Linked DNA regions of Homo sapiens. The protein of the gene in region 2 purifies or fractionates together with the protein of the main gene of each other region. This does not show direct contact. Each region holds a gene or a part of one and is shown on either strand. Other genes may lie near its edges.

The links. Proteins that work in one complex are often made in the same cells at the same time.
Region 1: the proteins of CDK15 (region 2) and H3-7 purify together in Homo sapiens (affinity purification with mass spectrometry; 2 studies listed by BioGRID and IntAct, with this or other methods). This does not show direct contact.

Annotation. Positions count from the first base shown.
Region 1 is NC_000001.11:143,904,904-143,907,534, forward strand, and holds H3-7 (histone H3-7), read right to left. Parts: upstream 1,075-2,631; 5' UTR 1,064-1,074; coding exon 653-1,063; 3' UTR 607-652; downstream 1-606. UniProt on the Homo sapiens protein: Core component of nucleosome. Nucleosomes wrap and compact DNA into chromatin, limiting DNA accessibility to the cellular machineries which require DNA as a template.
Region 2 is NC_000002.12:201,893,436-201,896,112, reverse strand, and holds the end of CDK15 (cyclin-dependent kinase 15), read right to left. Parts: 3' UTR 563-2,677; downstream 1-562. UniProt on the Homo sapiens protein: Serine/threonine-protein kinase that acts like an antiapoptotic protein that counters TRAIL/TNFSF10-induced apoptosis by inducing phosphorylation of BIRC5 at 'Thr-34'.

The DNA of each region.
Region 1 (2,631 bases), on a different chromosome or scaffold from region 2:
TTTCTTGGTTTTCACTTTCCATTAGACTTGCATACGGAAGAAATCTTAACGCCAGCTAGACAAGTTAACTCTCTTGCCTCGTTTTTGCATTTTTATTCTATACTTTGTGGAAATTTTTTTCTCTTCCTTGAAATACTACCTCACCCACACATTTTTAAAAATCGCCAGATATTTACTCCCGCCCGCTTAAATTACTATTCTGGCTTGGACACCGCCTGTAGTATGCAATGAGGAAGATGCTGAGCTTTAATTAAGCTTATAGTTCCTAAATAAACCAGGAAACGAGTTTATAATTTTTAAGGGACTCGCCCCACCCTTACACTCAGGATCTTCCACATCTAGAAACTCCCCATAGTCTCTTGCCCCCATGCAAAACTTTACCCACAGAATTGGGAGCCGGACCTCTAGCCTTAAACCAGCGTGAAAAGGCTCGGCCGGAACCACAAGGACCATGCCTCTGCGGCTTTCTCTACTGCCGGCCAACTCACGGCTGGGCTTTGGGTTCTGTAACGTCACCCACCACGAGTGCCCCTGGCCCCTGACCGCTGCGCAAGGCAGACGCACATCAGATGGAGAGCCGGTACAGCTGCTCTTGATGAAAACGGCAGTGGCTCTGAAAAGAGCCTTTAGATCGACCACTTAAAAATATACCTTAGGCCCGCTCCCCGCGGATGCGGCTGACCAACTGGATGTCCTTGGGCATGATGGTCACGCGCTTGGCATGGATGGCGCACAGGTTCGTGTCTTCGAACAGCCCCACCAGGTAGGCCTCTCTGGCCTCCTGCAGCGCCATCACGGCCGAGCTCTGGAAGCGCAGGTCCGTCTTAAACTCCTGCGCGATCTCGCGTACCAGCCGCTGGAAGGGCAGCTTGCGGATCAGCAGCTCCGTAGACTTCTGATAGCGCCGGATCTCCCGCAGAGCCACGGTGCCGGGCCGGTAGCGGTGCGGCTTCTTCACCCCGCCCGTGGCCGGCGCGCTCTTGCGGGCCGCTTTGGTAGCCAGCTGCTTCCTCGGGGCCTTGCCGCCGGTCGACTTGCGGGCAGTCTGCTTAGTACGGGCCATGCTGTCTCATTGATACGAGAGGGTCTAGGCAGTCGTATTTATAGACATAGCCTCCTCTTGATTGGGCCTGAAAAGGAAATTTTCAAACTTGTGATCTCATTGGTTAAAATTCAGTCCTCTTTACTGGGGCGGAAGATTGTTCTGCTAATCTTTCTTCCCTTATTATTTCCCCCTTTCCTGATTTTTTTCTGTAATTTTATCGATCACGGATTGCTTTTGAAGACTTTCCTTTAAATTAGTCTAACTTTTGTAAAAGCAATGTATAAAGTGTTTTGCATCCCATTTTAACAGAGATTTTTTTTTTTCCCCGAATTCAAGCATGCCCTTCTATGAGCTATCAGCCTGTTTCAGGTTACCTGTTACTGAAGCTCTTCTACCATAGCTAACATTTATTTCATGTCTAGCATTTTGCTCAGCAAGTTAGATGCATTGTATACCATGAATGACCGAAGCTTAGCAAAAAAATATGTAATTGAAGGAATGAAAAAATTGATCTTATTTACTTGACCTTGGAACCCAGCCAAAGCCATTTCATGTGGGTAGTGTGCTGACCTATATTGACCTGATATTAGAGCCTCTGCCTTCCTTTAGTCTTTTCTCCCTGCGATGTGGTTCCTTCTTCCTCACCCTCACATCAATGGCCAATTAGGTCCTGCAGATGTTAAGCTTCTAAATCAAAGAAGGACAACACCAGAAATTCATTTCTCCTTTACAATGTAGAATAGTTTGTAAATTAGTGCTAATTAGCCAGATTACAAGTTAAAGTTTCAAAGCAAATTATTCATCAATTGCTGACTTGCTAACATTTTATTCAATAAAGTATTTTATAATGCTTAAAAGTTTAATATTTTTTTCTGTTCTCTATGAAGAGAGTAAAGATGCTTTGCTTTTTCAATTTCATGTGCTTTGAAGTATGTATTGTTCAGAACAGTAAATATAGTGGTTATGTAGAAGCAACTGATACTTAAAAGTTGTAGTAGTTAATATAAAACTTTTAATCATATGCTTATTTTACTAAAAAAATCATTACAAACTATAAAAACTCAAACCTGAGAAAAGCAGGCCCGAAACGCTTAAAACTTACTTTGATGGTGTCATTATGAACTATCTTCCTACTGAAGTCAAAGTAAAGTAAAAGTGATTTCAAGGGGACTTCCTGAACACTAAACACAAAGTAGAAATCTGTGAGCTTAATTAATATCTTCAAGAGTCTCTCATGGGCAGAAGCATCCTCCTCTCGAGAGATCTAAAATGTACAAAAGTGTAACTGATGTGAACAAATGTTATCCCTCTCTGTGGTAGTTTTGTAATAATGCCTTACAGACAGCAGGCACTACTCAGTGTTTAAAGTTCTTCTACATACACTTTATCATTTAATCCCTACTCTGTGAAATAGATCTTACTCTTCTCACTTTACAGATAAGAAAACTGAGTCTCAGAGAAATTATGGCTTGTCCTGGGTAAGTAACAAAGCCTGTGTAATATTCTAAAGCAAAAGAATGAAACGGTAATGATGAAACTTTCTATTTCATTAGGCTTAGAGGATACCTTTTTTTTTTTTCATTTGA
Region 2 (2,677 bases):
CATTCTGGGATCATCTTAAACACTGCTGGTCACTGGAACCGAGGGAAAGTAAAGTGAAATTTGAGTCAGATGTGGTGGTGCACACCTGTAGTCCTGACTACTTGGGAGGCTGAGGTAGGAGGATTGCTTGAGCCCAGGAGTTTGAGTCTGTAGTGTGTGATGATCACAACCTGTGAATAGTCACTGCATGCCAGCCTAGGCCACATAGTGAGACCCCGTCTCAAAAAACAGAACAAAAAAAAAAAAAAAAAAAGGAAAGAAATTTGGAGGGTCTTATACTGGCAATCAAATGAATGCTTGGCCCAGAAGTGACAGAGATCACGTCCACTCACAATTCATTAGCCAGAACTAACCACGTGGCCATATCCACCCATCAGAGAGCCAAGAAGTGCGACCCCATTATGGATGCCTGGAAGACAGAAATATTAGGAGAATAGCACTAGTGGCTAAGTAAGCATCACTAAAATAACTAGTGCCTCAAACTGAACAAAAATAAATTATGTTTTTTAAAGTCTGGTGTTGGTCTATACGGAAGAAACAACCAAAACACGGGATGAAAAAATATGCACAAATTCCAGGAATGTTTATTTGATAAAATTGAGAAATGAAAGATTTAAATGTTTTAGAGTCTTATAACATTTATTAAGCTTTTGAATAGGTAAATCCATTAAAGAAGGAAGCACAAGCATAATCATATGCATAAGGTATATGCATATGCATAAGCATAATGTTCCTCCATTATAAAGAGGATAATTCTGTCAACTTCCACTTAATAAAATCAATTTTTTAATAACAAAATTTGTCTATTCATTCCTGCAGCAATAGTATCTAAGCATAATTCCAAGTATAATCTGTACACAGCTGTTCCAAAGTCATTATTGGAGAATCTTGGAATTAGACGGGACATTGGAGGTCAGCTCTTCTAACCTCCAACATGGGAATCCCTCCTATAGCTCTCATATCTTCAGAGAGGCAGAGGAATCCCACTACTGTTGTGGGAACTCTTTGTATTGATGGACAGGTAAAACTGCTCAAGAACTCTTGCTGATGCGTCAACAGTAGCATCCCTGAGCTTTCGATTGGTACTAGCATTATCTCTGGGGGACAGCGAAATTATACTATTAATTCATATTGTACTTAAAAGTGCCAATTTCCACTAAGTCATAGCCTTTTTTAAGTTGTAGCCCAAAGTGTAAGAATTTAAGTCAGATGAAATTTGATGCAAGTAAGTGTTGTTTTGGCCTGCTGTTCATTGGCTTCTAGCAAGGTGTCTTTTGAATCATGATCCAATACTAAATAGCAGCTGCCTCTGCAAGAGTTGTGTATTCTCTAAATTCGATAGGTGTCAGGAACATTGGAGAACCAGGTCTGAGGTTTGCATCTTCACTCTGGCATGCTACTATGAAGGAGTTACCTAACTTCACTGAGCCTCAGTCTCCTCTTTTGTGAAATGGAAGTCATAAATTAATAATAATAGTACTTACTTCAAGGAGTTGTATAAAGTTGTCCATGTACTCTGATTTATTCGAGTAATTAATAAAAATATTTGACCAGAATAGGACTCAAGACTGAACCTTGTAGCACACCACGGCTGGCCTTTCTCTGGGTTAAATAAACACCATGATTTGAGTACATATATCTGCTCCATCACCCAGCCTACACTGTTTCATCTTTCAGGTATAGCTGGACAGTCTTTGTCAAATGCCTTACTAAAATCAGATACTTACTCAGGCAGGTTGATTTGGGCTACCCATGTGTCTTTTTCCTTTTTCCATCTCAGACATTGGGGGATAGTTACTATTTTTTAATTATCTCTTAATTAGTTCCTCCTTGCTCTTCCAAAGGATATACAGAGGTCTCTGGTTTCTAGGCTGCTACATTTCCTGAGATGATCCCTGGACAGAAGCGATTTGAGTTTCCCTGGCTGCTTTTAGAAGGAGTCATTGTATAAAACGGCACACGTGTTAGCTAAGACAGATCTCTCATTTTACTTGAGGGGTGTGTGTGTGTGTGTGTGTGTGTGTGTGTGTGTGTGTGTGGTGGTGCAACAGGGCTTAAATTACATCTTTGGAACTCTGCTCCCAACTACTTATTCAATATCTCCACCATCAAACCAGCGCTTAGATTCCCCATCACTGTTGCCATCATCACAGACAATTAAGATTCAGTAGGAGGAGATAGCCTGAAATTCATTTCTAATCAGCAGCCAAATCCAAACTTCTAAAATATGGGTTGGGTGGTAATACGTTCTGATAATCCAGTTTAGTGAAGGAGGAAGTGCCCCCTACAAAATAATAATAAATAGTCCTCAGGAAGTCCTTTTGTTAACAATGTTATCCAAGAAACCATCTTTTTCTAAACTTTAGGCTAGTTTTCTCCTTGCCACAGAAATCCTTTTGTTGGGAGAAATTGTAAGTGAACACAGGAGTGGCAGGTCTCTGTAAGCACCAGCTCTGTCTCCAGATTCTTTTAAATTGTCAGTCTCTTATCTGTCTTTTTGGGAAATCAACCTTCTAGCCCAGGAATCTCTTAACAAATGCCAAAATGAATGAAGTTATTCAGAAGCCCTCTTCTTAGACTTAGTTTATGTCCAGTTTTTTTAAATCAATCACTTAAATTCTATGCAAATGACAATAGCAATAACCTTCCACTGAATTTTCTTCCACTATTATGTACT